Homo sapiens: one gene and its partners. Each later gene encodes a partner of the first gene's protein in a complex. Each region holds a gene or a part of one and is shown in the gene's direction. Other genes may lie near its edges. The genes, in order: MYSM1, RBM10 and KIF11.

Region 1 (10,716 bases):
TATATCTTCATCTTATACAGAAGGATAATCATATCGGATGTCTTGTTTAATTTCAGATAAAATATATTTAAGTCTTTAGTTTCTAACAGATTATTCCTATCAATAGTGTCTACAATAAGGTCTACTTATCATGACTTTTCATGAACTCATTATTTTACTTAGTCACCTCTTCACTTGGTTAAGGATCACAAATCAGCTGTTTCATAATTTTTTCTAGAATTTTACTACTGTTCAACATCTAGTTCCTCCTTTTCTGCAGTCTGCTTTTTTGTATTGTGAAACAAGCTCAATAATTGTCTATTTCTAGTCCTTCAGCAACTTTCCCATTCTCTGCAGTTCCTCAACAAACACTGACAGCGGTTCCATATCCGTGGTTCTTAAGTACTCCAGGATGTTCTTTCTGTGCTATTTTCTCATCTATCTTGGCCTTCAGTTTCTTTTTGTGTTGATTAAACACTTTCTAATTTAAAGGTCTTTCTTTATTCAACAAGTATCTTTGAATGTGTACTGTATATGTCAGGCACGGTTCTGATCACTTGGGATACATTATTAAGCAAAACAAAATGTTCTCTTGAAGCTAACCATCTATGGTTGAATGGAAATGGAATTGCCCTGCTCTCTTCCAGTTGTGTTAATGCGAATGTATTCCTGTGTGTTTTTCTTTCCCTGAAGATAGCCTAAAAAACCTTTTTATTGTTCTTAATATAGTTCTCAAGCCTCAATTCTTTACTGACATTTCTGAGATTTATGTGTGCTTTTGACCTTGCTTAGGTTCTCTCTTTTTCACCTCTTTTTACTTTTTCACTTTTTTGTTTTTTTTTTTTTTTTTTTTTTTTTTGGAGACAGGGTCTCACTCTGTCACCCAGGCTGGAGTGGAGTAGTAGAGTGGTGAAATCATGGCTCACTGCAGCCTCCACCTCCTGGGCTTAAGTGATCCTCCCACCTCAGCCTCCCGAGTGGCTGGGACTACAGGCACACGCCACCACGCTCAGCTAGTTTTGAAATTCTTTTGTAGGGGTGGGGTTTCACCATGTTATCCAGGCTGGTCTCAAACTCCTAGGCTCAAGGGGTCTGCCCACCTCGGCCTCCTGAAGTGTTGGAATTACAGATGTGAGCCACTGCACCTGGCCACTTTTTCACTTGAAGAGTTTATGATAGGAGTAATACATTAATATCTTTACCAGAACTGTTTGTCATTCATTCATTCAAAAAATGTTTTAAGTTCCTATTCTATAGTGGGCACATTATTGAACTGACAAGTGTTTTTGATAAACTTCCATCTTTCTTGAACCTTTTTTTGGGTCTCATGACAGTTAATTATATTTTCATTGGACTTTTTGAAATCTGCTTTTAGTGTGGGACATATGTCTGATAGTTTATAGTGTCCTCTTTGAGTGTTAAAGGAAATTAAGACAACAGAGCAACTTTATCTCAAAGTTCCTGGGTTTTTTTTTTGTTCTTGTTAAATCTAAAAGAACAGTGCTTCTTTCGAAAGGGTTTATGGAATTTCCTACAAAACTCTCTCATTTAGACAGAATTTGGGTTTAGATTATTGATATACACTTTCAGATTTACAAATAAATGTTATTTTCCTAATCTTGTTGAGATTGTATTGAAAATTTTTTTTCTTTTTCAGCTCGTTTGATCCCTTCCAACTGATACCTTGTAATTTTTTTAGTGAAGAAAAGCAGGTACTATTTATGCATTAATGAATGACAGTAGACAATCCCCGCTTCCCCGTCAAACAGGAAATGCTTACTCTTTTTCCGTATGTGCAAGGCATATGTATAAAAAGACTGAAAATGAGAGAGAATTTCTCCCTGCTGGAATTTTAAATCATAATGTTTTAAAAGTCTAGTTTGTGCTGAGCTTTGGTTAGTGCTGAGAACTTGGTGGGGTGGATAAAGGAGAACAGGGTGGGCATTCCAGGTGGGGAAAACAAAAATCTCTATTTTTATGCTCCCCCGTTTTGTTTTGTTTTTTATATTTCAGGAGCCATTTCAGGTGAAAGTGGCTTCAGAAGCACTTTTAATAATGGATTTGGTAAGGATAATCTATTGTGTTTACTTAGTTATTCTGATTTCTACTCTTGTGTATTTTTATTGCAGGCGTAAGACAGAGTATGGAAGACGTGTATTTTGGATCTTAACTGTCCTCTTTTACAAGGAATCTAAAAATAAGTCTTTTCTTTTGGAGAAAAGCCAAACAATTGCATGTTTCCATATTTTAGAGAAAATAAATTAATGTGAGTTTTTGCAGACTGTTTACCATCATTAACCCTATTTTAAGTTTCTAATATATGTGTCTGCCACTTTTTAGATCACTGAAACAAAGCACAACTCCTGTAATTTGGAGGGTTTTTTTGTTTTTACTAAACTACCGATACCTCCAACAGTTTTTGTGTTTGTGATGTCTTTGTGTAGAAGGATTTAGAGTGATTTTTACTTTGTATCCTTACATAATACCTCCCTTGAGTAGGGAGAGTAAATGGTATCTTCATTTTGTAATTGCAAAAGTAGAGTCTGAGAATTTTTAAGTGTTTGGTTGAAAGCTTCTCAGCCAGCAGTGAAGATAGACCTGAAATCTTAGTTTCTGTGCACTGATCCTAGCATCTAGTTCCTCTCCTATGCTACTTTATTTTATAAAAGCATGATGGCTATACTTACAAATGACTTTCTTATGATAAGTGAGTTTTGTTACTTTGTCAGGTGGGTTTGTGCGTTTGGGCTAAGTCTGTCTTGTATTTCTTTTAGCATGCTCATGTTTCTATGGCAGAAGTGATTGGTCTGTTAGGAGGAAGATACTCAGAAGTTGATAAAGTAGTTGAAGTAAGTTCTCTCTTTTAAAAAAATGTTTTAGTTATTTAGTCCTACTACCATACCAAATATTTTTATAGAATTCAGTTAATATAATTAAAATACAGACTTTACCTATGATATATATGAGAATATGCAAATGTAGCAAGTTATATATTCCCAGAAGTGACTTAACATTCTATATGCCTAGCGCCTGTTTCTTTTTACCACCGAGAGAACATTGCCAGGCCTTGGGTCCTCATTACCTTTATTAGTAAAAAGCTACAACTTCTAAGAGGCCAGAAACAGGTACTAACACTTTAGTTGAAAGTTTGTATGCATCATTCTGTTGAAATTATTGTCATAAGTAACAGGAGTCATTGAAAGAATACCTTTGTACAGGTATTATGTGGGCTGACCTGGAAAACTAACCATTATTATGACCTTGTTTGAGTAGAAAAATGCATGCTAAGTTCCTAGCATATAATCAGACTTTTGGAGTTTAAGTCATTTGCAAGTTAAAGGCAACTGTGGTATTGTTAAATAAAAGTCTTGGCCTTGAAAAGTTTCCGTATCTTTGAAAGAATTATAACATTAGAGTAATAGAATTAACAGGATTTTAGTATAATCATTTGAGGATCAATCGTTTATAGGTCTGTGCAGCAGAACCATGTAACAGTCTGAGTACAGGACTACAGTGTGAGATGGATCCTGTATCACAAACACAGGCCTCAGAAACCTTGGCTGTTAGAGGCTTCAGTGTTATTGGATGGTATCATTCTCATCCTGCTTTTGATCCTAATCCTTCCTTACGAGATATTGACACACAAGCTAAATACCAGGTATTACATGTATATTTATATTCTGTAAATGGTTGCACACCCCCTCAATGCTCCCTTTTAAATAGATAAACTTTAAACATTTTTCATATTACATTTCTAATATTCTTTATACTGGGGATTTTGTTTGTTTATTTTTATTTATTTTTATTATTATTTTTTTTTTGAGACAGAGTTTCGCTCTTGTTGCCCAAGCTGGAGTGCAATGGCACGATCTTGGCTCACTGCAACCTCTGCCTCTTAGGTTCAAGTGATTCTCCTGCCTCAGCCTCCCAAGTAGCTGGGATTACAGGCGTGCACCACCACGCCTAGCTAATTTTTTGTAGTTTGAGTAGAAACAGGGTTTCACCATGTTAGCCAGGCTGGTCTCAAACTCCTGACCTCAGGTGATTGGCCCGCCTCGGCCTCCAAAAGTGCTGGGATTATAGGCATGAGCCACCACACCCAGCCAAAAAAAAAAAAAAGAAAAAAAATACATATACTGGGGGTTTTAAAAGAACATGCATTTTTTTTTCTGATTGCAAGATTGATAATTGTTTATGTAAACATTTAGAAAGTCAGTTATTTTATTAAGTACAAACAAGCCATGAATGTATCACTGGTAAATACTCCCAGAGCCTTTAAAAATTGATGGGAACAACTAGGACAGGGACTAGATACAACTGAAGTAATAAGAAACATAATGTATTTTTTATAGCTGAAGAAAAAGTTTTATTCTGGGATTTTACACTTGATATGTGACTGGGTTTGCTGTAGGGTATTTGTAAATTATTACTGTATTGATAAGAATTACAGATGTAGGGTGGTGAATACAATTAGTAAATATATTCATGGCAAATACAGATTGTGTAGGCCATTTTATATTTTTAAGGGTCATTTTGGATTTGGTTGAACACATTTTTGCCTGAAAAATGTACCGTGTGAGATGAATATCTAAGGCATTTGATTTAGTTGCAGTTTGGATGTGAACTTTTTTTTTTTTTAGAGACATAGTCTTACTCTGTCACCCAGGCTAGAGTGCAGTGGTGGGATCTCGACTCACTGCAACCTCTGTCTCCCAGGTTTAAGGGATTCTGCTGCCTCAGCCTCCTGAGTAGCTGGGGTTACAGGCACGTGCCACTACACCTGGCTAATTTTTTTATTTTTGGTAGAGACGGGGTTTCACCATGTTGGCCAGGCTGGTCTCAAGCCTGATCAGGCTGACCTGACCTCAAGCAGTCCGCCTGCCTCAGTCTCCCAAAGTGCTGGGATTACAGGCGTGGGCCACTGTGCCGGGCCAGATGTGAACTTTTTAATGCACCTTTTTGTTCCTGCTTTTCCCCATTAGATGTTTAAAATGTTAGTATGGATAAATATTGGCTTTTGAATTTATATAGTTGAAACTAATTATATTTTTCTTGTCATTGTAGAGTTACTTCTCCAGAGGAGGTGCAAAGTTCATTGGGATGATTGTTAGTCCCTATAATCGAAATAATCCCTTACCATATTCTCAGATTACCTGCCTGGTTATAAGTGAGGAAATTAGCCCAGATGGCTCTTATCGTAAGTTTTCAACAAAAATAACTTTATCCTCTTTCTACTCTTATTTCTTTGACTCATACAAATCAAAAGATTTGCAACTGTTTAAAATTATTTAATGCAAGAGTTTGTGCCCTCAACTAGGGAATCATTATTTGGGTGCCACCCTAGTGCAGCCACCCTCTTCCGTTTCTTAATCTCCTGCTATATTCAAGTCCCCACTTTTGTTACCATGGCCACTGGGCAAAAGGATTGAAATATGGAGAAAAGTTATGGCCAGGCAGTGTGTATGCTAGGCACTGGAGATGTTGCAGTAAACAAAACAGTCTCTGTTCTCATGAAAATTTTTTTATAAATGCAGACTGGCTTTCTCTGTGATGGCATGCAAATGAAAAAAAAAATGACCACCAGCTCTCTGTCACCTCCCGGTTTAGGGTTAACAATGACTAACTCAATTTGTATCTCTCTTTGTTCCCATTCTATCTCAGGAAAGAATTTGGTTGGCATAGACCATCATCTGACTTGATTCCCCTGAGGTTTATGTCCACTTGTAGTCCAAACATTTCTGGGCGGATAGGGAGTTAGTATAGCAGACTAGGAAAAGGAAGGGAGTGTGGCTAGAAAGCAAATAATCAGAGGAAACAGTAGGCTAAATAACTCTAGGATATTTATTCTGTCATTACTACCACTGCTATAGGTCAGGTCCCCTGGACACTGCCACTACAGTTACCCCACATTGTACTCTTCCCCATTAGATTATGAGCTCTTTGAGAATAAATACTGTATTGTACCCATTTTTTCTATCCTGTTTCTAGCATGAGGCCTGGCATAAAGTAGATACTAAATGAATATTTGTTTAATAATTAATTTCTCTTCATTCTTAATGATCTCTCTTGGATGCCCTATATTTGATGTAGATTTACCAGCACTGCCCCCATGTTATTTACTATTAGTTGCTTTATTCTTTATGTATCTGCAACACTTTATTCCTGCCTTCATGGTCACTTTGTCTTTTAATGCAATTTATCTATTTAGCAAGTCCTAATAAATTGTATGCCCAAAGAGCAGGGACTGTGTCTTATTTGTCTTTTTTCTCAAGTAGCACCTAATAAATTGCTTTGCATCTAGGAGGTGGTCAACACTATGGGTTTTTACTGAATTAATAATATTGGTATTAGCTTTTAGTCTGGAATGTCCATTTTGAGCATAGCACATAATACATATTATTCTTTAGCTCAGTACAGTTTTATAAAAAGAATCGCAATTAACTTGTTCTCTTTAAATCATTTTTAAACCATCTTTAAATCATCATCTGACTTGATTTTATAATCTCACAGACTGCTAGGTTTTGGTAATGAACCTCAATTCTGATGCTATCCAGTACAATAGCAGTACGTGTGACTTTAAATGTAAGTTGATTAGAATTACATGAAATTTAAAATTTAGTTCATGGAATTCTACTCTGGCCAAAATGAAGTAAAAAGAACTTGTCTGAAACTACCAAAAAACTGGACAAAATATGTAAAATAATGGTATTTAAACACAACATTTAGCAGCAAAGGAATACGATTGCTAAGAGATGGGAAACAAATGAAAAGAGCCCCACATTACCCTAGCTTACTGCTTAAGAGGGTTTTCAGATATGGCACAAGAAGGAGAAACCCACCCAGAGCCAGGCCGACTCAATTAAGGTGATGGAGATAAGGAGACCAAGACAGCTGAGTTTGTGAGACAGAGCCCCAAGAGAACAGAAAGCAGAATGGAGAGTGAACTCTGGAGATTTGTAGAAGAGTATCCCTGGAGTATTTAGCAAAGTACAGATCAGCACATGTATGTGAATAAACTAGCCCAGATGGGAAAGAACTACTTGAAAGCATTAGAGGGAACTATCCATGATGCTCCCATGAGCTACCATTGGACAGAGCTGTCTTGTAAATGACTTGTCCATGCTTAACACTGCGTATTAGATCTTAATCCTAGGTCTTTTGCTTTGCCCTTAGAAATCCTCTGGTGCAAGAATTAAGGTTTTCTAGAAGCCATGGGATACCTTGTGCTACAGTACTTTTAACTCAGGTCATATCTTTACAATATCTCTAATGGTTTAATGTTTTCTTTACTTGTGACAGGCAGGAAATATATTTAGTGATCAGTTTTCTTCTGATATTTTAGTGGATAAAAATATTCTCTATAAAAGAAACTTATTGACTTTAAAAGTACCTTTTTTAACTTAAAAAATATTCTTAAAAATACCAAATAGACCTGTATATAATTTGTGTGTATGTTTTCATGTTTTTGCATCAGCATAGATTGAAAATGCATTATTTACCTCTCTTTATTTTCATCTTCAACTTTCATTGAGAGTAGGAGTCACTCTACTGGATTCAGATCCCAGCTCTGACATTTATTGCTTATTTTACCTTGGGCAGTCTACTCCCTCATTCTCCTTTGCTACATCTGTAAAATGAGAAAAAATTACTACCTTGCTTACAGTAGGTATATGGTTGTAAGGTGTGTCAGTAATATATGTAAAGTGTTTAGCAAATAATAGGTTTTCAGTGGGTGGTTATCATTATATAGATGGTATCCATGTTTAGTAAGTAATCAAAGCATGTCAAGTAAATGACTGTTATCACCATAAGGAGTTTGCTTAATACCCCGTGTACTATAGTGTGTCACTCTTCTTAAGTTTTTGGAGAAGAGGAAAATTGAGCAATTAAATAAAAAAGATCAGTCATCATCATCAGGCTTGCTGTCCCCTTTCCTTCCAAACACCTGAAAAAATGCCTTTTTAGAGCATATTGACATTTAAGCTATGCTTTATTTCATTGTGAGGAAATAATTGTATTTTTCCCCTTTTTTTTTTCCATGCCTTCTGATTTGCTGGCATTTTATTTATTCCTTACCATGGTAGAAACCCAGTTGAGGCAGTATTATGTATAAGTTAAAAGCAGAACTCTCGAGCCTGACTGCCTGGGTTCAAATCCTGCCAATGCCTTTTATATCTGATCATGAGCAGGTTAACCTTTCTATGACGTAGTGTCCTCATCGAAAAAAAAAAAAGGGGGGGGTGAATAATGGCAGCTACTTCATTTAAGTGATTTCACATTAAGTTTTAGGTGGCACATAGTATGCATTATAAGTGTTACTATGATGGTATCAGCCTTTGCTAGTGAATCAGCTGAGCTTTTAAAAAAATGCTATAGATGCATTTGCATGGGGGTCTTGAAGGATATGTGAAAAATTGCTAAGATAACTCATCGTTTGGTATTTTTTCCTTTCTAGATGAATATATGATGTTCACCCCTTGGGCTTCTTTCTTTCCTCCAGAGTTTAGTATAACAACTTTGACTCAAAGCAGTTGCTGCCTCCCCAGAGTTCATCCTATCCTCTTGTCTAGTCTTAGATTAGCTCTTCTAGGGAGGTGGAATGAGTTTGGGCTCAGAAGTGAGGCAAACCTGCTGGGTTTTAACATCTGTGTCCTGCCACTTTGCTAGCCTAAATATGATTTTTAATGTATCTCAGCTTCAGTTTTCTCACCTGTTAAAAAAAAAACAATAACTTACAGCATTGTTGTAAGCTTAATAACCTGTATATATATATATTTTTAATTATCACTAGGATGGCAATATGTCTTAGTTTGTCTAGGATAATCCCACTTTAAACCTGCGGTTCAGGCATAATTATTAATAGTACCTTCTTTCATTCAAAAAGTCTCTTGGTTTAGGTGATAAATTACGTGATCATCCCATCATAGTGCCATGCGTAGAATTGTCATGTAAATGGCACTTTTACTCATTATTATTATTAATAGCTTGGCATTAATATGCTTAGTGGACCAAGTACAATCGGGCAATAAATATTTAATGAATGCCCACTATGTTTAAAGTGCTGTTCAGCTGATCTGCAAAGCTATGGCTGTAAAAACACCGAAGGGAATTTTAAGTATAATTAAAAGGAGATTGGAGAGTTAAGAAATAGTTGATGACAATGTGCTTCTTTATGCTTTTCTAGGCTTACCTTACAAATTTGAAGTACAGCAGATGTTAGAAGAACCTCAGTGGGGATTAGTATTTGAAAAGACAAGATGGATAATAGAAAAATACAGGCTCTCCCATAGGTATGTACTGTGGTTTGAGATGGTTGCACATCTGCAGTGTTGCTCATTAAATTATGTTTCAGAGAAAACCCAAGTTAAATATAAAATTGTGATGTATGGCATCCGTGATAGTTTATTATGAAACTGATTAGTTTATAGTATTCGTTTCACCAGTTTGTTTTCATATTTCTTCCTACAGCAGCGTCCCCATGGATAAAATCTTTCGCCGGGATTCTGACCTGACTTGTTTGCAGAAAGTAAGCTGTCTTCATTTTAATTGGTTCCATTGTTCACAGATTCTGAAGCTATTCATCTCAATGTGTTTTCCCATGATGCCTAATACTTTGTGGATAATTTTCTGTATATTTCTTTTATTACTTTTTCCTTTGGAAAATTAATTTCTAGGAGATAATTAGTAACGTTTTTTGTTGCCCAAGCTTGCACATAGAAAAAATTCTATTTTAGAATAAATTTGTCAGTGTTGGCTGATTTTAGCAGATTATTATTATACACAATGGAGAACATTTTTCTTATTTTATTAAATTTGAAAGTGCCATGTTTCCATTTTAGCCTTAACAATTGGTCATTTTTAAGAATGATGGTATAAATCTAACAATTAAATTTAAATAGTCATTTTATTTAACTTTCTAATAGGAAATAAGAGTTTTGAATTCTGTCAGTTCACGTCTAGGTTTTGCTTCTGTAATGATTGAAGGCTAGTAGATCTGCAACATTTGTCTTTTTAAATAGCAATTGGGGATAGAAAATTTAAACATTAAGTTTCTTTTTAATATGTTTTACTCCTTTCTGTTATATCCAGTTTTTTGTGTGTTGTTGAAAAAGTATGTGCACATTTCCAAGGAAATAGACTCCAGCTAGCATCCTCATTTTGAAATGCAGAATCCTATGTTTTTATGTACCTAGATTTTTGTGTGTGTGTATACTCAGGATTATTTTGCTTTGTAAGTGTAACTACAAATGGAGAAAAGTCGCAAATACGTCCGAAGTAGAAAGCATCACATAAACAATCTCAGGTTTGTCTCCTTATGTAAAATCATAAAAGTACTAAGCTGAGTGTTCCTCAGCAGCAATTTCCTACATTCCAGCTCTGTGACTATTAAACACAAGTTAATCTTCAACCATTTTTAAGGAGAGTGTTTCTCATTTGAGCATTAGGAAATGTGAGGTCTGGAAAGGGACGAAATAGTGATAGTAATGCAAACCCTCATACTTTTTCTGTATTTAAATATAAAACTTTTCTTTTCAACTAGCTTTTGGAGTGTATGAGGAAGACTCTGAGCAAAGTGACCAATTGCTTTATGGCTGAAGAATTCTTGACTGAAATAGAAAATTTGTTCCTTTCCAATTATAAAAGCAACCAAGAGAATGGAGTAACCGAAGAGAACTGTACAAAGGAATTGTTAATGTGATTATTTTAAAGTTAAGACATTTTAATCTTGACACAGTA
Region 2 (10,716 bases), on another chromosome or scaffold:
TCTCCTTTCCAGCTTTTAACCTCTTTTCTTCCTTCCCTGTTTAATTGCTTTAGCTAGTGTCTTTAGAATAATGTTAAGAATGCTGTTGATAACGGACATTCTAATGTTGTTCCCGACCAGAATTGGAATCCTGTTAGTATAGTAGCATTCTTCTGTGGCATCTAGTTTTTTCTATTTTAAATAAACATATATTGGTTGCTCTTAGAATGCTTTTTTAGTCATTATTTGTTCAAAATAATTGTTGAGCGCCTACTGAGTGCTAGGGAATATGGCAGTGAGCTAAGGGTCCCCTCATTTCCTGGAGCCCATATTCTAGTAATTTTTTAACTCACCAAAGAAACACAGATTAGGCCATGCACAGTGGTGGACGCCTGTAATCCCAGCACTTTGGAAGGCTGAGGTGGGTGGATCACTTAAGCCCAGGAATTTGAGACCAGCCTGGCAATGTGGTGAAACCCCATCTCTACAAAAAATACAAAAATGAGCTGGGCGTGGTGGTGCGTGCCTGTGGTCCCAACTACTCAGGAGGCTGAGGTGGGAGGATGGCTTGAGCTTGGGAGGTTGAGGCTGCAGTGAGCCCTGATAATGCCACTGCCCTCCAGCCTGGGCAACAGTGCCAGATCCATTCTCAAAAAAAAAAGAAAAGAAATGCAGATGAAATCAGCTTTGAGATCATTATTTTACAGTTATTGCGGTAGGAGAAATTTTAATGAAAGAGCTGCTAGTGTCGGCAAGGTGACAGTGAAGCAGGGGCAGGGGACGTGGTGCAAGACAGGGAGGAGGAGCCTCACCCCCGGGGATCCTGCAAGCCGAATGAGACCTTGGTGAGCATTTTGGTATTTGATCCTGAGACTGAGGGGGAGCCACTAAAGGGAGTGAGATGGGTTTGAGTGGCTTTGCCTTAGAAAGCACTCACATTTGGGATTTGGGATGTAGAGACTGAACTGGGGAGGTCCAGGTAGAAGTGAGGAGAACAGCCAGGCCACAACCAAGGTGCCCCATGAGGGAAGCCAGTGGCATGGACCAGAGAGTGACATAGGGATGGAGAGAGGCAGGTTGCACTTCAGAGATGTGGAGCAGGGATTTAGGAATCCCTGTATGGGGGCGGGCCTGAGGGCTTCCAAAGAATAGAGTAGGGGGAGGGAAAAATAGAAAGTTTACAGGGTGAGAAACCTGGCAGACACTGCCTTAACCAGATGACCATGGTTAACATCACCAGAGCTAAGTCATGGTGGTATCATGTACTTCTTTCTCTGATAGGATCAGAAGGGCACCTCACTTCTGTTGTATGCTCCTCCAAAAAAACCAAAACCCTACGAGAACACATCACCTGGGCCTCTTGCACCTTTTAGAAAGGGCAACCTTCTGATCCCTCCCCATCCTTCTTCCTCCACTAGTGGTGGTCGTGGTGACAGGACTGGCCGCTATGGAGCCACTGACCGCTCGCAGGATGATGGTGGGGAGAACCGCAGCCGAGACCACGACTACCGGGACATGGACTACCGTTCATATCCTCGCGAGTATGGCAGCCAGGAGGGCAAGCATGACTATGACGACTCATCTGAGGAGCAGAGTGCGGAGGTGAGGAGGGGGCGCGCTGCGCCAGGCCTGGCTGGGATGGGCTCCCAAGGGCCCTCTGTGTCTGGCTGCAGCACCGTGTGCAGGCAGCTCTCCACTCCCGTGCCTTCAGACTGTGCTCGGTGGCTTTGCCTCACCTGGAGGGCCTGTTCCCACTCCCCTCTCTGAGGGCTCCTCTCCCAACCTGGGTCTCCCTGGCTTCCACATGCTTGGCTCTGTACTTCTGAGGGCCCCTGGCCACCACTCTTTCCCTTTCTCCCTGTTGTTCAGTTCGGGCCCATGGCTCACTGTGAACCCTGTACTGCCCGCTCCCAGCCAACTTGGGCACTTGAAGAGCCTCTTCCATGGGACCCGGCGTCTGGGGTTGGGAGGACAACAAGGGGACTGCAGACCACCAAGCTGAGGAGCTCTGGGAGGCCAGCCATGGGCATTCCCAGTGGTGATAGAGCCCCTAGACAGAAGGGAAGGACCCTTCTGGAGAAGCCAGTGCCATGTTGGGTAGTTCACCCTAGCCTGCGGGATGAGGCGCGATGTTTACACCATCAGGGAGCCCCCACCCGAGGGGAAGAAACAGGCTTGCCTTAGGGGAATCCCAGTTGGAGGGGCAGTCAGGGACCTGGTCCATGCGAGCAGGCAGCTCTCCTGTCCAGCAGGCTGGGAAGGGAGTTCTTGCAAGCCCAGCCCTGGGGGGCAGTCTGTGAGCTGCCCACTGCCCTCTGGAGGGTCCAGGGCAAAAACCCCTTTGGTGGACTGCCAGGCTTCTCCAGTGGCAGCTGTCAAGCTGTGCCCAGACGTCTCCAGGAGCACTGGGCCCTGGCCAGGGTGGGAATGGAGCACCAAGTTATCTGGTGCTTCCCCACTGTGGGCGGGAGGGCTTTGGCCCCAGGCCTGCTCTGCTTAGTCCTGGAATGGATGGATTGGGCAACAGCCCAGAGCCCAACAGCCATACCGTTTTGAGCGTGGTGTGTGGTGGAGGACTGGCCAAGGCTGAGGATCAGGGACTGAGGAGGGAGTGTCTGCAGCCCTCACACCACCTCCACCAGCTCCTGCTGCCTGGCTCTGGCTGAGATCTGAAGCTGTTCTTATGCCCCCAGCTTGGTTGCAGGGTGGAACCGTAGGAGACATGCAGCCTTCGGTGGTACAGTGAAGCAATTGAGCACACCCCCTGAGCTGGCCAGAGAGGAGAGGAAAATCAAGGGTGGGGTCTGGTGTGCTGACCCCAGGCCATCTTGCCCCAAGGAGGTTTAAGCTGTGTCTTGTCAGCTACCTTTGGGAGTTCCCCCCACACCAATACTGTCACCTACCTCTCCCCACCCACTGAAGGCAGCCCCCAAAAGGACCCCATGGAGAATTTACAGTCCCAGAAAGATTGCAGGCCGGGGCCTGCCCACCCTGCCTGCCTGAGCCTTTAGCCGGAGCCCGCACATCCCTGGCTTTCAGAGCCTGCCTGCCTCACAGAGCCAGCGGCCAGCTCCTAGGCCTGCCCAGACTGACTGCCCGTCTGGTGTCACTCATCTCATTCTGTCGGCCAGGATTCCTACGAGGCCTCCCCGGGCTCCGAGACTCAGCGTAGGCGGCGGCGGCGGCACAGGCACAGCCCCACCGGCCCGCCAGGCTTCCCCCGAGACGGCGACTATCGGGACCAGGACTATCGGACCGAGCAAGGGGAGGAGGAGGAGGAGGAGGAGGATGAGGAGGAGGAGGAGAAGGCCAGTAACATCGTCATGCTGAGGATGCTGCCACAGGCAGCCACTGAGGATGACGTACGTGCCCCCCATGGCCCCGGGCAGGAGGCCAGGCTGGGTCTCCTCCAGGGCCCTCAACTTCTCCCCACCCCTCCCTCACCTGCAACCTCAGCGCCTTTCATCCCTTCTCCCCCTCCAGCTCCTATCCCCCAGCACTGATCCGTCCTCTGTGGGCAGGTCCCATCGGCCCCCCGGTCTGGAGGGAGGAGTGTCAGAGAGGCCGGCTTGGCCAAGGGACATTGGCCATGGGTGTCTGGTAGTGGTGGGTATGGGCGGGAGAAGAGCAGTCCTGCACATTCCACTGGTCATCCAGCCATTTTGCATGTGTGCATCATGGGCCAGACGCTCACCGGGCCAGTGCTGGCTATTGCTGGTAGCAGAGATGACACTGGGGCCCTGTAACCATTGGGGGAGGGATGGGATTTTCTGAAATTTCCTTCTCTTTTTCCCCCATCCTTTTTTGTCAGCAGCCTGGCCTGGCCTCAGAGCCTTGGGTGGCTGCTAACAGCCTCCACGCCTGCCTCCCTTTCCTCCTGTTTCCTTTTCATACATACTTCTCATGACAGCCACACTGAAGCCCCACGAGGCCTACCAGAATAACCTCCAAGAATAGTGTCCTGATCTTGGTCCTTCTTAGTCTACTCCGCCGCCCCTCACCCCCTACCCCCATGAATTCTCTGATCAGCCCTCCTCTGAAATCTGCTAGCTGCTCATTTTGTAACAGAGAAAATCCCACTTGTGTATTTGAGGGTTTCTAAGGTCTGGCCCACCTGCCCTGTTCAGGGTCAGACAGTAGCTGGTTGCTGACATTTGTTGAGAATGTATCTCAGGGTGGGCCATGTGTTAGGTATGATTCAGTCCCCATGGCAGCCCAGCAGGGAAGGTACTCTTTGTATTCCATCCTTCGGATGAGGAAACCAAGCCCTGAGTGGGAATGTGACTTGCCCCAGGTCTCATAGCCAGTGAGTGGCAGAGCAGAGCTGGAGTCTGAACCCGGGCAGCTGGACCCTAGAGCCCACTTTTTGCTGCTTCCTCAGCCTTCCCTGAGTTTGGAGTCCTGATAAGCTCTTCTGTGTGTTTTTCCTTTTCACCCTGTGTATGGGTGTGTGTAAGGCTAATGTCCTGTCTGTTGTTTAACCTGGTGGGGAAACTGAGGCCCAGAGACATGAAGACTCCTTCCCAAGAATGGCTGGCATAGGCTCCTGGTCCTCAGTGAGAGACCTCACTGGCCTAGAGACCCTGCCTCACCTGGGCCAAATCCTGAATTGCCTCTGCAGTTTCCCTCTGGCCTACTCCATCTGGGAAGCAATCCCCAGGACTACATCTTTTTGCTTTTTGTCTCCACCCTAAGTTATTGCTACAGTCATGGTCTAGGGCACATGGCTGGGATTTGCTCAGACTCCTGTCCTCCCCAGTTTGACATTTATGTCATGGATCTCTTTTGACGCAAGCTGCAGGTCAGCAGGGCAGGGGCGGGGGTGCGGGTTATCCCCTTGCCAAGGGCAAGAATTGCATCCCAGGTTTCCTTACTTCGTGGCTGCCAGCGAGCCCTTTGTCAGATCACCCTGCCCACCGTTCTTAAGTGGCTGGCTCACTTGCTCTCTTGTTCTCTGTGCCCCTGAGGGTCGTCCTGCTGCCATGCTTTACCTTGCTCTGTGCCCATTTCTTCATTTGATTCACTTTCTGCAAGTCTGGGGCTGAAAGTCAAGACTGTGAACTGGTGTGGGCCTGGGGCTGTTGTCACTCAGGGAAAAGCTGCGAAAGAGGCGGAGGAGACTGTGTGCACATCACCGATGACCCCTCGGGATCCAGAGGCCTCCAGCCAGCCTCAGGTACCCAGCGGCCCCATTGTGCTGAGCCTGCCCTACTCTGTATCTCCCCGTATAGATCCGTGGCCAGCTGCAGTCGCACGGCGTGCAAGCACGGGAGGTTCGGCTGATGCGGAACAAATCTTCAGGTGAGCTTTTGTTCTAGTGCCCTCCCCTTCAAGTGGCCAGCCTCAGCCTCCGAATCTCCCTCCTGCCTCTGCCTTCTCCCCCACTCCCTCCACCACCTTCCTGCCACAGCTGGGAATGGGCAGCGTGGGGGGTGCCCTCTCTTCTCTCCCACTCCCCACACTCTCCTCACAGCTCCAGCCAAAAGCCTCTTCAATGGGGCTGTCGGGGCAGGGGTGCAGCTCTGAGCTGAGCTGGGTGCTCCCTGGGGTCAGGGCCAGGGCCAGGCTCCCAGGCACCTCCTCTCTGGGACTCTGAGTATCTGAGATGGTAACCCCCTCCCATACACTCCCTTCCCTCTCCTTTCTTCTCCTTCCTCTGCCCCTCACTTTCCCCCACATTTTTTGGTAACAGCCTCTGACCAGAAAGTAGCTCTGACGTGGTGGTCCCACATGTGTGTCCCAAGGGGGAAGCAGGGGATGGCTCTTATCCAAGGACACATCCCAAGGAACAGCCAGGACTTCCTGGCCTCGCCTGTTCCCTCCCTCCCTCCCTCTTGCAGGCTGCTTGGAGCTGGCCTGAGGTTAGCAGGGTGGTGGTGGGGGGAGTTGTCTCTACAGGACCTCTGCCCAGGCTCCCCAAGGCAGGCACAGTGGGGCCTCACTCTGCCTGGGCTTCTCTCTCCATCTCTCAGTCTCTCCTCCCCACACCTCCATCTCTCTCTCTCTCTCTCTCTCTCTCTCTCTCTCTCTCTCTCTCTTTCTCCCTCTCTCTCTTTCTCTCTCTCTGCCCCCCCCAACTATATTATTCATTCCATCCTCCTATGCATCCTAACGGTTATTCTTTTGAACATTAAGCATGCCCCCCCAAGCCCCTCTCATCCAAGCCCTCCCCATGTATCTGCCTCTAAAGGACATGCTATCCTGAGGCCTCAACCCTGAATCCCTTTCCCAAGCCTGGAATCTTGGTTGCATGTAGGTCTTGCTCTGCATCACCCCAACTACACCACACACGGACAGCTTCTGGGTCTCTCTCTCCACAAGGAGGTGTTCCAGGTGCGGCCTTCTCAATGGCCCTGGGCGCTTCTCCCAGGCACCCATTGATTCTTACCTCTAAGGTCCTCCTGGCCAATCCTGGCCACCATTCTCCTTTTGTCCAGGGGAACCTGGACTGTTTGTGGCTGTAGTCTCCACCCTGTGGCCCTGAGGTGGCTCCCTAGCGAGGCCCGCCTCCCCTGCGCTGCGGTGAGGCTGAGATGAGGTCGTGTCTTTAACCGCCCCTGGTTTCCAATGGGCCAAGAGCCTTCCTAGCCTCGCAGAGCAGCCTGGCCCAGCTTCTCTTTTGCTCCTGTGATTCAACACCTGTTACAGGACCCCTCCTGGGCACCCCTGGCCTTGAGCTGGGCCCGCCCTGGAGTTACGTATTGTGGCTTGTGTGGAGCCAGCAGCCTGCCCACCATCCCCTCCCTCCTTCTTTGGAGGCAGATCTCTCGTATTCTTTCCCTCCCAGCTGCTTCTCTCCGTCTCTGTCACCCCAGGCTGGCTGGGCAGGTCTGCCCGAGCCCCATCTCTCTCTTCCCAGTTGGTGTGTGTGTCTCTCCCCCTACCGACCTCTGGCCTCTGTTTTTCTCCCTCCACCTTCCCTGCCCCACCTGGCCATCTACCTTGCCCCCCACGCCCGCTAGTCTTTCTCTCTCTGATTGCCTCTTTCTCTTTCTTCCTTTTTCCTCTTCCCCTTTCCCTCTCTGCCCCCCGTCCTCTCCCCTCGGGTCCCGCCCCCGGGAACGCCGTGTGTCCAAAGCTGTTGACTAACCCACTGCGTCTGTATCTGAATGCTGTCTCCAGGTCAGAGCCGGGGCTTCGCCTTCGTCGAGTTTAGTCACTTGCAGGACGCTACACGATGGATGGAAGCCAATCAGGTTGCTTTGCCGCACTTGAACCCCCCCCCAAACAAATACTACTTTGTAATCGAGCGCTCCCCATCGCCTGATTCTTATGGACACAGTTCCCTGCCCTGTGGCCCTGTGTCCCATCCCCCCGCCCCCTCTCTCCCCTTCCTGACCCTCACTATCTCCTCTTCCCATCTCTCGCTACCCCACTGGGCTTCTCATCCAGAGCCCACACTCACCACTGGCCCCTTCCTACCACCAGGCACTAGTGCTGCCCCTTCACCTCTCCCAGCTGAGCGTTCAGAGAAAGAGCTGCCAGGGTGGGTTCTTTCACCTAGCTTCCCACTCCCCCGGGGCTGGTGGGGGGGGCACCCCTCTCTGGGGTTAGCCAGAGCCAGGACCTCATTCCACCCTCAGGACCACTGGAAGTCCTGCCAGTGAGGAGCTTAGCTATTGGCACAGTCACTAGCAAGACTCATTTTGTCAGCCCCATCCCTGCATGTGAATTTGGCCCTTTGATTTTCATGCAAGGGGACAGCACTGCTCTGTTGATCTCAAGTTCCCGTCGAGTATGATAGTTTTATCGACACCCTGGCCTCACTTCGCCGCCCCTACCCTTCCTATCACATCTCCACACTCGCAGGAGGCACCACCTCAGGCAGCTCTGTCTTCTCGGCAAGGACCTGTGCACAGTCAGCCCTGGGGGGAGCCTGTCCCCCAAGCCTGGCACGGGATCCCAACTCAGCAGCTTTGGGACCTCCGAGACCCAAAGATCTGCCTGGTCACCCACCCCTGCCCAGATCCCTGGTGTAGGGCACTGGAGAGCAGTTTCAGGGGAGGAAGGGGCAGAGGTGGTAGAATGGGGGATCCCGGCAGAGGCAGCCCTGGGGCCGTCTCCTCGGGGTTGGTAGGCTAGTGCCATGGGCCCAGGACCCAGCCATCCATGGGAAGACGGCCTCATGGCAGAAACTTCCATCTGTTCGAAATGGCTCTTTCTTTTTCCCCTTCTCCAGCACTAGCGCACCTGCGCTCTCTTTCTCTTTTTCTCCCCTCTCCCTCCCCCTCCCTGTCTCCCCTCACCCCCCAAGTGTAGCCTGTGTAGTCCTGGCCCTGGGTGTGGCCTGGCAGTGTCAGGGCCGAGTGGGGGTTTCTCCCCACTGTCCGGCAAGCGTCGGTCAGCCGAACACTGTGTGCCTGGTGGTGTGTGTTCACATGTGTGCGTGCGTGTGCCCGGCAGAGCAGCAAACAGCTGCGCCCGAGAGCTGTGGCGCTTTCCCTCCCTACCTCCCTTCTTCCCTCCATCCGCTCTCCGACCTCCCTCCGTTCCCTGTCCCTCATCCATCCAGCTGAAGGGCTCGCTCACTCTCTTCTCCTATGCTGAAACGGTGCGTGGGGCACTGCTGCCTGGACCTCACTGTGCTCTGCTTTTTCCCGCAGCACTCCCTCAACATCCTGGGCCAGAAGGTGTCGATGCACTACAGTGACCCCAAGCCCAAGATCAATGAGGACTGGCTGTGCAATAAGGTACAGGGGCGGTGGGCAGCAGTTGTCATGGACAGAGACAGCAACAGCAGTGGCGGCGATCTCTCCCTTCCTCTCCCGCTCTTTCTCCCTCCATCTCTCCCCCTCCCCCAATCTCTCCTCTCCCTCTGTCTCTCTCTCTCTCTCTCTCTCTCTCTCTCATTCTCTATCCCTTGCTAGCTCAGCTTGAGTAGTCACCATTCCTAGCCAGCCATATACAAATGTGTAGTGAGCGTTCACTTGGTGCAGGCTCTGTCCTCCTAAAATGCAGTCTTGCCTGGAGTTCCAGTAGACTTTAAGGAAATATATACGTGGATGATGAATTAGTGACAGTGTAGACTTGAAGTGGTGGTGTGGAGAATGTGGGCTTCAGAGCCAGACTGGCTGAAATGAGACTATCCCAGATCGGCCTTGATTTTGGCCAAGGTGCTTAGCCTCTCTTTGCCTCACTTTCCCCATCTCTAAAATGTGAATATTAATGACACCTCTCCCAAAAGGTGGTTGGGAGGATTCAGCTGTGTTAATGAGAGAGTAACACTCAGAACAGTGCCTGGCCCACATTTAACACAGTCGAATTGTTAACTGTAATCATGAAAGAAAAGCACAGAGCGTTCTGAGAGCCCATAGCAGGTAGCTCAAGCCTGAAGGCCACTCTGACCAGGCCAAGTCAAACCTGAAACTGGAGGCTGTGGTTTTGTAGTCACCTCTGTCTTCCCTGAGGGGAAGCTGAGGCTCAGAGAGGTGGAACCATGGGTGAACCTTTAGCTGTGCCCTGTGCCTTGCTCCTGATCACAGGGACTTGGATGCCACAGTGGCTTCAGGTCTGCCCTGGGGCCAGCATTGTGATTCCACAGTTTGTAGAGGCCCCAACCCTCTCCCCAGGAAGTACTCTGCCTAGTCAGGGAGAGTGGTGCATCTGTTTTAAAAAAAAAAGTCCCATCAGAGGATTGGTGCTTAACATTTCTGGAGAGATAAAGACAAAGTGACAGTGGAACTCCTTCCTGTGTTTCCAGATAGCCTCAAAACCAGGGAATTCTCTTTTTTTTTTTTTTGAGACAGGATCTGGCTCTGTCGCCCAGGCTGGAGTGCAGCAATCTGGGCTCACTGCAACCTCTGTCTCCAGCGCTCAAGCCATCAGCCTCCAGAGTAGCTGGGACCACAGGCGCATGCCACCACACCCACTAATTTTTGCCTTTTTATTTTTATTTTTTTTGGTAGAGACAGGGTTTCGTCATGTTTGCCAGGCTGGTCTTGAACTCCTGAGCTCAAGCAGTCCTCACGCCTCAGCCTCCCAAAGTGCTGGGATTACAGGCGTGAGCCACCACGCCCAGCCCAAAACCAGGGAATTCTCTTGAACTCCTTCCCCTCCCCTGCATCCTGTTGGCCACCAGGTCCTGTCACTTCCATCACAGAAACGCCACCTTCCCTCCCTCGCCATTCCCGCTGCTCATGCCAATCGTCACGCTCTCACCCACTCACTGTGGAGCCCTCTCTGGTATGCTGGCCTCTTGTCCTCTTTCTCCCACGCCCTCACCTGGAACATTCCTCAAAACCACCTCTGACTACCCACGCCTCTCCTCCTCTGCTTAACCAGCCCCAGCTCAGCTTAAGCATAAGATCCTCCATTACCTAACTGGCTTCCTTCCCCGGCCTTGGCTTTTGCTTCTCCCCTTACTCTCCCACACCAGTTTCGGAAAGTCCATTGTTCCCTCCGATAACAATCCCTCCCCAGCAAGGCTTAACAAAATGAAACTTCTGGGCATCCCAGGTCAAACCTCCCTGCTTCTGTGCAGGGACTGTCCCTGCCGAGTAAATGGCACCCCACCCCCAGCCCATTTCCCTCCCCGAGCCCCTGCTGGATGGTCCATGCAGACCGACCTGCCCCTCTTCATGCTGCATCTGCCCCTGTGCTATTAGGCCATGAGGGCAGAGACCATGTTCTGGCCATGTGCAGCAGGGCCTGGCCCAGGAGTGGTGCTTAGTACCTGAGTCTGGAACAGAGATGGAGTGTGGTAGAAGCTGGGTCTCCAGATGCTGGAACATTCAAGGA
Region 3 (10,709 bases), on another chromosome or scaffold:
CCCAGGAGGTCAAGGGCCAGGCGCGGTGGCTCATGCCTGTAATTCCAGCACTTTGGGAGGCCAAGGTGGGGGAATCACTTGAGCCCAGGAGTTCAAGACCAGCCTGGACAACAAAGTGAGACCCTGTCTCTACAAAAAATAGAAAAAAATTTGCCAGGTGTAGTGGCATGTGCCTGTGGCCCCAGCTACTCAGGAGGCTGAGGCAATAGGATTGCTTCAATGGGAGCAGTTGAGGCTGCAGTGATACCTGATAGAGCCACTGCACTCTAGCCTAGGCAACAGAGTGAGACCCTGTCTCAAAAAAATAATAAATAAATAAATAAATACAAATAACAGTATATACAAATTCCTTATGAAAATAGAAATGTGTAAATGCCAGCAAAAACAACTAAAGTGGTTGGTTGTTTCTGGGGTAAAGGTCTAGAGGCATTGGTGTGGAATAAGGCTGAGAAAATACTTTTTTTGTTGTTGTTGTTACAAGCCTTTTAGAACTATTTAACTTTATAAAACATTTCCACGTTTTTCTTTTCTTTTCCTTTCTTTCCTTTCTTTCTTTCTTTCTTTTTTTTTTTTTTGAGACAAAGTCATACTCTGTCACCCAGGCTGGAGTGCAGTGGCATGCTCTTGGCTCACTGCAACTTCTGCCTCCCAGGTTCAGGCAGTTCTCCTGCCTGGTATTACAGGTATGAGCTGCCATGCCCAGCCTCCATGTTTTTCTTTAAGAAAAATAAAAATCAATTTAAAATAGTTTATTCGAGAAGTACATATACTCCTGAAAGAGAAATGCCAGAGCAAACACGTGGGCAACGATGTTGCATTGTTAGAATTCAGTTTAACTAGACTTAAATTATTATTATTATTATTGAGACGGAGTCTTGCTGTGTCGCCAGGCTGGTGTGTAGTGGCGTGATCTCGGCTCACTGCAGCCTCTGCCTCCCAAGTTCAAGTGATTCTCCTGCCTCAGTCTCCCGAGTAGCTGGGACCACTGGCACACGCCACCATGCTAAATTTTTTTTTTTTTTTTTTTGTATTTTTAGTAGAGACAAGGTTTCACCATATTGGCTAGGATGGTCTCAAACTCCTGACCTGGTGATCTGCCCATCTTGGCCTTCCAAAGTGCTGGGATTACAGGTGTGAGCCACCACACCCGGCCCCAGCTAATTTGTTTGTTTTGAGATGGAACCTCGCTCTGTTGCCCAGGCTGGAGTGCAATGGTGTGATCTTGGCTCACTGCAACCTCCACCTCCAGGGTTCAAGCGATTCTCCTGCCTCAGCCTCCCAAGTAGCTGGGATTACAGTCACGTGCCATCACACCCAGCTAATTTTTGTATTTTTAGTAGAGATGGGGTTTCGCCATGTTGGCCAGGATGGTCTCGAACCCCTGACCTCAGGTGATCTACCTGCCTTGGCCTCCCAAAGTGCTGGGATTACGGGCGTAAGCCTCCGTGCCCAGCCGAGAAATGTTGATTATTAGGCTGAGTAGTTTGAACTCAACAAAGGCAATGTAAAATGACATTTCAGGGACTGCTTAGTGCAACAAAACACTTACATGGGGCCATTAGACCCTAACTATCTCTATTAGACTTAGCCCTGAGGGCAAGTACAATAATTCAGCCTGTATATTCACTGCCAGGCCCACAGTAAGCATTTCAAGAAGAGTATGAGAAAAGTGGATGTGACCAGGCATGGTGGCTCATGCCTGTAATCTCAGCACTTTGGGAGGCTGAGGTGGGTGGATCACGAGGTCAGGAGTTCGAGACCATCCTGGCCAACATGGCGAAACCTCGTCTCTACTAAAAATACAAAAATTAGCTGGGTGTGGTAGCGCGTGCCTGTAAACCCAGCTATTCAGAGGCTGAGGCATGAGAATTGCTTGAACCCGGGAGGCAGAGGTTGCAGTGAGCCAAGATTGTGCCACTGTACTCCAGCCTGGCGACACAGCAGTACTCCATCTCAATTAAAAAAAAAAAAAAGAATACATGTGCACTTAGCAAATGAAAAAAACTCAATGGGAAAGACAGTAGTTAAGAACCTGGGAGTTGGAATGGGAAAGAATTCTAAGTTCCTTCCCTAATAGTTAACCTTATACTATGATTAAAGTGTAAGTACAGTGATATGCTGTATGACTACAGACAAACTTATTTGGCTAGTTTACTGATAAAATAGTAGAAAATAATAGTTCCTACTTCACAAAGTTGTTCTGAAGATTAAATGAGATGATACACACAAAGCCTTTAGCATGGAGTCTGACTCACAGTAAACCCTAGGTAAATGGTAGCTGTATCTATTATCAAATGGAGACTCTTGAATTTCTTGCGTCAACCCATGTGACTGTTAACATATATATTGTTTGAATATTTGCTAAAGAGAAAGGAAAGACGGCCCAGCAGGGTAGCTTATGCCTATAATTCCAGCAGTTTAGGAGGCTGAGGTGGGAGGATTACTTGAGACCAGGAGTTCAAGACCAGCCTGGGCAGCATAGGGAGACCCCCATATCTACCAAAGGAAAAAAAAATTAGCCAGGTCTGGTGGCTTGTGCCTATAGTCCCAGCTACTCAGGAGGCTGAGATGGGAGGATCCCTTGAGCCCAGGAGGTCCAGGCTTCAGTGAGCCGTGATGGTGTATTGTACTCCAGCCTTGGTGATAGAGCAAGACCCTGACTCAAAAAAAAAAAAAGAAAGAAAAGGGGATTTTTTTTTTTTTTGAGACAGAGTCTAGCTCTGTCACCCAGGCTGGAGTCCAGTGGTGCCATCTCGGCTCACTGCAACCTCTACCTCCTGGGTTGAAGCGATTCTCCTGCTTCAGCCTCCTGAATAGCTGGGACTATAGGCGCCCTCCACCACACCTGGCTAATTTTTTTTGTATTTTTAGTAGAGACGGGGTTTTACCATATTTATTGGCCAAACTGGTCTTGAATTCCTGACCTTATGATCTGCCCATCTCGGCCTCCCAAAGTGCTGGGATTAAAGGCATGAGCCACCGTGCCCAGCCAGTGTACTTTATATGTATCCCAGGTACTTTATATGTTATTTTAATCCTCACAATAATAGTAATTATTATTATCTCCATTTTACAGATAAGGAAACCAAGGCTGATAGAGGTGAAGTAATTTCCTTCAGGTACTCAATATATATTTATTGAGTAAAGCCTTACTTTGGTGTAAGGCTTGTTCAAGACACTGGGAAAATAATACTGAACAAAAAGACAGGGTCCCTAATGAAACTTACATTCTATCCAGGGAGACACACAATATATTGACAATATAATATATTGTCAATACACACAATATATTGCCTGTAGTGTTATGAAGAAAATAGACAGGGTTCTGAGATAGAAGGTTATAAGAGGAAGGCCAGGTGCAGTGGCTCACATCTGTAATTCCAGCACTTTGGGAGGCCAAGGAGGGCAGATTACTTGAGGCCAGGAGTTCGAGACTAGCCTGGCCAACATGGTGAAACCGAGTCTCTATTAAAAATATAAAAAAAAATTAGCCGGGCGTGGTGGGGCACTTGTAATCCCACCTATTCAGGAGGCTGAGGCACAAGAATTGCTTGAACCCAGGAGGCGGAGGTTGCGGTGAGCCGAGATCCCGCCACTGCACTTCAGCATGGGGGACCAGGACAAGACTCCGTCTCAAAAAAAAAAAAAGAAAATTATGAAGAATGTGCTTTAGATAGGGTGGTCAGAAGAGGTGTTTTTAAAAGAAAAAGTTCAACTGAGAGCTGAAGAATGAGATGGGTAAGCCATGCAAAGAGCCAAACAGAGTTCAGGGCAGAGGGTACGTCAGGTACAAGGGCCTGGCCACAGGAAAAAGCTAGGAGCTCTGAAGCATGGTAATGAGATTTTTGGAAAGTGCCTTTAGTTGGTGGTATGGACAAGGGCCAGATCATGAGGACCCTACAGAGCATGGTAATGAGTTTGGATTTAATTCCAAATACAAATGAGAAGGTAATGTAAGATTAAAAAGCAGATGAAGAGCATAATCTTATTTTCTTATTTCTTAAAAGACACTTCCCTTGCTGAGTAAATGTAGTGGAGGAGTTGGGGGTAGGAGAAAAGGGCAGAAGAGAAACTTGTTAAGGAGGTAGATGACATTTGTTCAGGGAAGAGATAAGAGCCTTGTACTAGGGTGATCATCGGAGGGGAGATAAAATCAACAGGACTCCACTACACGTGGAGGAATCAAAGGTTCTGGTTAGCACCAGTATCCAGATGAGAAAAGATTAGGGTGGAGATAGGTCCCATTTTGAAATGCCAGCGAGCCACCTAAGAGGAGATATCAATAGACAGCTGGCTACTCAAAATAGAGATGACCAGCAGAAGGAGCTGTAGATGCAGTTATTTCCTTGGGGCGGGTTGTGCGGGGGGGCGCATGTAGGGGATTAGCAAGTGGAGGAACACAAAAAGGACATCAGAGCTTTCCACTACACCGGGTTGTTACTTAATAGACTAACACGACATTTAGGTTCCCATGGGTTGTGTGGGCCAGAAGCGCAGTTCCAGGAACCGACTACAACATAGTGTGGGATATGATGTTTCTCTTCAAATAACCCGATCAATCTTTTATTCTTTAATTCATAGTACCCTCCCTTTTTTCTCTTTTTCTCCTTTTTTGCTTTTGTTAAATGCCCAGGCACGCCACAATACTAGGCCTTATCAATACCAGCTCACATTCCTTTCCTTATTTGAAGGGACTAACTTTTTAGCTCATTACAGACACCCCTTCCCCTTTCCTGTCCGCTTTCTTTTAAGTACCCACCTTAGCTAAAAAAAATCAAATGTTTAGCCAACCGGGATTAGTTTAGATTATACGACCCGACCCCAGCCAATGGGAAAAAGATACAGGGGCAGGACTTGCGTCAAAAATAGACTCCTGCCCCTTTGTTCAGGTGTGCTCTCAAGGCGACTGGCCAAAAAGGCACCCCTCTGCGCAAAAATAAAATTGCTTTGCTAAAAATCCTTTGTTCAAGTGTTCAATTTCCTTAAGATTTTAAAAGTTATTCATAACAATAGGCTCCTGTTTCAGTATTTCCTGGTGCGGCGTACCACACCTACAGCGGTCGAGTCACGCCAGGCACTGCCAAGACGCCGAAAAGTTCTCCCGCAGCAGGCCGGAGGTGACCGACGGCGCGCAGGCCCCAGCGAGCGCTGCATGCTGGGATCCGTAGGCCGGGGCGGCGGATGTTTGCGCAGCTTCCTTGAGATGCCACCGCCCGCTGCGCCGCGCAGAAACGGGGAGCGCAGCGCACCCGCGGCCTGCGTCACTCGGTCAGTGCAGTCGTTCTAAAATCGAGGCGGACCCTGCTTTCTTGCCTGGAGTCACTTAGAGATGATGACTAAAGGATAAATTCAGAGTCCTCCAAATGGCGTCCAGTGTCCATTTCATCACGATTTGGAACCTGTAGTAGCCTTATCGCTTAACACTTCCTAATTATTATTATTATTATTTTCTTTTTGAGAAAGGGCATTGCTCTGTCGCCTATGCTGGAGTAATCCAGCGACATAATCCCGGCTCACTGCAGCCTCTATCTCCCGTGTTCAGCGATCCTTCTTCCTCAGCATCCCGAGTAGATGGGACCAAAAGGCACGCATCACCACACCAGGCTATTTTTTCCCCTCTATTTTTTGTTGAGACCCGTTGGGAGGCGCGGGGAGGGGGGTCTCCCTATGTCGCCCAGACTGGTCTCAAACTCCTGGAACTTAAGTTATCGTCCTACCTCGGCCCGTTAAAGTGTTGGGATTACAGGCCTGAGCCACCGGGCCCCAACATTAATTATTCTTCAAGCCTATTCTGGACCGGGCGCGGTGGCTCACGCCTGTAATCCCAGCACTTTGGGAGGCCGAGGCGGGTGGATCATCTGAGGTCAGGAGTTCGAGACCAGCCTGGCCAACATGGTGAAACCACATCTCTACTGAAAATACAAATATTAGCCGGGCGTGGTGGCACGCACCTGTAATCCCAGCTACTCGGGGGCTGAAGCAGCAGAATCGCTTGAACCTGCGAGGCGGAGGTTGCAATGAGCCGAGATCGCGCCACTGCACTCCAGCCTGGGTGACAAGAGCAAGACTCCGTCTCTCACACACACACACACACACACACACACACAAAGACTATTCTGGTCTCTGCCTCCGGGATGGCGGCTCGCTTTGGACCTCTCTTCTGTGCTTCTACTGCCCTCTCTTACAATTCTCTAATAATTATAATCATGGCGAGTGCTTACCATATATTCCAATCTATTTACTTCCACAAGCTCATTAATTCTCACCCTAACCCTCTGAGATGGTTACTATTATTTCCTCTCTGCAGCTGAGGGAATTTTGGGCTAGGGACGTTATGTAAGTTGAGCCACGCTACGCTAAAAGTTCCACACTCAATTCTAGCGTCTCGGCTCTGGACTACCAAGTTCCGGAGCAAGCAGACAGACCACCTCTTTACGTTCCCGTAGGCCACGCTCCGGGGGCGGGGCTCCAGTGAGGATACTGCATCCCATGGTGCCTTGCGCGCCAGCGCAGCCATTGGTCCGGCTACTCTGTCTCTTTTTCAAATTGAGGCGCCGAGTCGTTGCTTAGTTTCTGGGGATTCGGGCGGAGACGAGATTAGTGATTTGGCGGCTCCGACTGGCGCGGGACAAACGCCACGGCCAGAGTACCGGGTAGAGAGCGGGGACGCCGACCTGCGTGCGTCGGTCCTCCAGGCCACGCCAGCGCCCGAGAGGGACCAGGGAGACTCCGGCCCCTGTCGGCCGCCAAGCCCCTCCGCCCCTCACAGCGCCCAGGTCCGCGGCCGGGCCTTGATTTTTTGGCGGGGACCGTCATGGCGTCGCAGCCAAATTCGTCTGCGAAGAAGAAAGAGGAGAAGGGGAAGAACATCCAGGTGGTGGTGAGATGCAGGTAGGGAGAGGGCTGACAGGATTCCGAGCGCTGCGGCTTCGCTGCTGGGCCCCCTACTGCGCGGTCCAGGGAGAGGGATTTTATTTGCATTTCCTGAGGGTCCCAGTTTCTTGGTTCTCCGCGTTCTGTTCAATAAAAATGACACCCGGTTGCTGTGTGTATGTGGTTTTTAGGAGAAAATAACATGTTTGATTTGATCACTGTTCCATACTGAAAAGTGCGTTCTTATGTTTAAACTATAGTCAATAAAGATGTAGGTGTCACTTTTATATGCTACTTCATGTAGTTTGTCAGTTTGGAAGTAAGACTGAATACCTATTTTGCAGATGGTTAAGCACTTACGTTGGTATTATTACCTCTAAAAAGCAATCAATCACTGTTCTCTTTATTCTAGATGCAATATTTTCTGCATCCCTACTAAACAAGTAAACATCTCTGTCTTTAAACATTAAAAATTAATAAAGTGAGTTTATGTTTTTTAAAAGATCAAGACAAGTTAAGCTAGTGTAAATTTCTGATTGTGCTGCAGTTTTCCCTTTCATCTGCGTGTTTGTTCATAGACCAAACTAAACGGATATTTCGAGATAAAGGGATGTGGAGGGGTGTTCGGCCCTCCCCTGACTGGTTTCCAAATAACTTCCCAATTTTAAAATAAGCTAGAAACTGCTGCTTAGTTAGAATTGATTTATTCAACTTTTTAGAGGCTCTCCACAGTTTACTGAGTATGTGTGTTTTGTGTGTCCGTTTTTGTGGCTGTTAACAGTTGCTGTTGCAACTTTTCTGTAAACCCCAAAGTATTCTAAAATTAAAAGGTTATTTTTTAGAAAAACTTGTATCAACAAACTTTCTTAGGCTATTGTTTACTCAGCCCTGGTAACTTGAATTGTGGATATCGAAGGTGATGACTAGGTTTCTAAACAAGGTGTCAGAGAGGAAATTGGGTGGCAATCTTAAGTCTAGCCAGTGACACTTACTAGTTGTTGTACTCTGGGGCTTCTGTTAGTAGTTAGTTGTTTGAAGATTTTTATTTAAAAATGCAGTGCATATAACAAGTGCAAATTTTAAAATTATTTTGGTTGTTTAATAAAACCAGGCAATATTACCTTTTCCGTATGCATTTATTTAATTTCTTTTTTAATGTTAGTTACAAAATATTTCAGACTTACAAAAAGTTATTAAGAACAATGTAATAAACATTTGTATATTCATCACCCAGATTAAGAAACAAAACAATCATTGCTGGAGCCCCCCTTTTCCCTCTCCATCCCTTTTCCTCCAGCCACTGTTAACCATTATCTTGAACTTGATGTTTATGATCCGTATACATTTCAAGTCTTAGAAGAGATTTACTTTATCACCAATGAATAGAATAGTTCTTTGCTTGTGTCTAATATTTACAATAATTTTTGTGTAAAGAGATTTTTTTTTTCAGATTAGCCTTTTTCTTTCAAATAGCCTTCCTGGTGCGTCTGTCATTAAGCATTAAGCTTTAGTAAATAGGCAACTTATGAGTTGCGAGGTCCTCAGGGGTTGGTAAGCCTTTTCTGTAAAGGGCCCAGAGAAATAAATATTTATTTTATTTAAATACTTTAGGCTTTGCAGATCACATGTGGTTTATCAGTTTTTTTTGAGACGGAGTCTCGCTCTCTTAGGCCGTAGTGCAGTGGTGCAATCTCAGCTCACTGCAACCTCCGCCTCCCGGATTCAAGCAATTTTCCCACTTCAGCCTCTCAGGTAGCTGGGATTACAGGCGCACACCGCCATGCCTGGCTAATTTTTGTATTTTTAGTAGAGATGGGGTTTCACCATGTTGGCCAGGCTGGTCTCGAACTCCTGACCTCAGAGAATCCACCCACCTTGGCCTCCCAAAGTGCTGGGATTATAGGCGTGAGCTACTGTACCCCTTTACATGTGGTTTCTGTCACATTATTTTCTGATCTTTTTTTTTTTAAGAACACTTTAAAACTGTAAAAATCATTCTTAAATCTGTCAGGGCAGGGGCCAGGTTTGACCCACAGGTTAAAGTTTACAGATCCCTACATAATGCGCTACTGGTTCTCTTTCTTATGTCCCTCCTATTCCATCCCCTATTTTTTTCCCAATTTAAAAAGTCATTTTCAAACACACATAATATAAAATTTAACATCTTAACCACTTTTAAGTGTACAGTTCAGTGATATTAAATACATAATATTCTGCAACAATTACTACCATCCATCTCCATAACTCTTTTCATCATGAAAAACTGAAACTCTATACACATTAAACAATAACTCCCCATTTCCCTCTCCCATCAACCCGACACCTACCATTCGACTGTCTTATGATTTTGACTACTCTAAGTACTTCATAAAGTGGAGTCATAATACAGTATTTATCCTTTTGTGACTTGCTCATTCCACTTAGGCATAATGTCCTCCAGGTTGGACCATGTTGTAGCAAATGTCAGGGTTTTCTTCCTTTTTAAGGCTGCATAGTATTTATTATATGTATATACCACATTTTGCTTGTCCCTTCATATGTCAATGGATACTTGAGTTACTTCTTTTTTTGTTGTTGTTGTTTTTGAGACCGAGTCTCGCTCTGTTGCCCAGGCTGGAGTGCAGTGGCGCGGTCTTGGCTCACACTGCAAGCTCCATCTCCCGGGTTCACGCCATTCTCCTGCCTCAGCCTCCCAAGGAGCTGGGACTACAGGCGCCTGCCATCTCTCCCGGCTAATTTTTTGTATTTTTAGTAGAGACGGGGTTTCACCATATTAGCCAGGATGGTCTCCATCTCCTGACCTTGTGATCTGCCCGCCTTGGCCTCCCTAAGAGCCGGGATTACAGGCGTGAGCTACGGAGCCCGGCCTTGAGTTACTTCTTACTTTTAGCTATTATGAATAATGTTGCTATGAATATGGGTTTTCAATTCTTTTGGGTATTTACCCAGAATTGTAATTGCTGGATCATATGATAATTCTATTTTAAAGTTTTTGAGGAACCGACAAACTATTTTCCACAGTGGCTGGACCATTTTACATTCCTACCAACAGTGCATAAGGGTTCCAATTTCTCCACATCCTCACCAACGTTTATTTTCTGTTTCTTTTTTTTTTTTCAAGTAGCCATCCATTGGGTGTGAGGTGCTATCTCATTGTAGTTTTGATTTGTATTTCCCTAATGATTAATGATGTTGAGCATCTTTTCATGTGTTTACTGGCCATTTTGTGTATCTTTGGAGAAATGTCTGTTTAAGTCCTTTGCCCATTTTTAAATTGGTTTGCTTTTTTGTTGTTGAGTTTTAGGAATTTTCTATATATTTTGGATATTTTCAGATACATAAACGGCAAAAATTTTTTCCCCATTACTGTGGTTTGCCTTTTTACTCATTGATACCGTGTGGTCTTTTCCTTTCTTTTTCTTTTTGGAACCAGTGCATGGCCTCTTTGTTGATTCTGTGTTTGGCCCCAGTGCAGCCTGTTCTGTGCTATGTGTCTGCAGTGCTGAAACCAGGCCTACCCAGCACCATACAGAAGTCCAGGCTGTAGATACCAATGCATGGGTCACATTTGATACCCAAATCTGTGTGTTCCTGGATCTCCAAACCAAAGTTTCCAGTATCTGAGAAGTTGTTCTTTCTTGATTCACACTCCTGCATCTTTAGACCTTTCTTCAGGGTTTCTTCTGCTTTGGCCCTTTGTGCAGTGGGTGGCAATCTTCACTTCTCCTGATGCCAAAGGATCTGACAATGTATTTGACTTTGGAGAACACAGGGGTCTGGCCTATGAGCTGCTCCAACACCTTGGCTGCTGGGGTCAGTCATCTCCAGTCTCCTCC

The links.
Region 2: MYSM1 (region 1) and RBM10 share a complex: the UniProt entries of both Homo sapiens proteins name them as parts of the large chromatin remodeling complex.
Region 3: MYSM1 (region 1) and KIF11 share a complex: the UniProt entries of both Homo sapiens proteins name them as parts of the large chromatin remodeling complex.

The regions. Positions count from the first base shown.
Region 1 is NC_000001.11:58,659,959-58,670,674, reverse strand, and holds part of MYSM1 (deubiquitinase MYSM1), read left to right. Parts: intron 1-1,636; coding exon 1,637-1,691; intron 1,692-1,992; coding exon 1,993-2,043; intron 2,044-2,108; coding exon of another isoform or gene 2,109-2,114; exon of another isoform or gene 2,115-2,245; intron 2,246-2,753; coding exon 2,754-2,828; intron 2,829-3,448; coding exon 3,449-3,637; intron 3,638-5,043; coding exon 5,044-5,176; intron 5,177-7,152; exon of another isoform or gene 7,153-7,225; intron 7,226-9,163; coding exon 9,164-9,269; intron 9,270-9,447; coding exon 9,448-9,505; intron 9,506-10,519; coding exon 10,520-10,678; 3' UTR 10,679-10,716. UniProt on the Homo sapiens protein: Metalloprotease with deubiquitinase activity that plays important regulator roles in hematopoietic stem cell function, blood cell production and immune response.
Region 2 is NC_000023.11:47,167,918-47,178,633, forward strand, and holds part of RBM10 (RNA-binding protein 10), read left to right. Parts: intron 1-1,397; coding exon 1,398-1,581; intron 1,582-3,110; coding exon 3,111-3,341; intron 3,342-5,210; coding exon 5,211-5,280; intron 5,281-7,101; coding exon 7,102-7,175; intron 7,176-8,582; coding exon 8,583-8,669; intron 8,670-10,716. UniProt on the Homo sapiens protein: Binds to ssRNA containing the consensus sequence 5'-AGGUAA-3'. May be involved in post-transcriptional processing, most probably in mRNA splicing. Binds to RNA homopolymers, with a preference for poly(G) and poly(U) and little for poly(A).
Region 3 is NC_000010.11:92,586,562-92,597,270, forward strand, and holds the start of KIF11 (kinesin-like protein KIF11), read left to right. Parts: upstream 1-6,568; 5' UTR 6,569-6,814; coding exon 6,815-6,891; intron 6,892-10,297; exon of another isoform or gene 10,298-10,709. UniProt on the Homo sapiens protein: Motor protein required for establishing a bipolar spindle and thus contributing to chromosome congression during mitosis. Required in non-mitotic cells for transport of secretory proteins from the Golgi complex to the cell surface.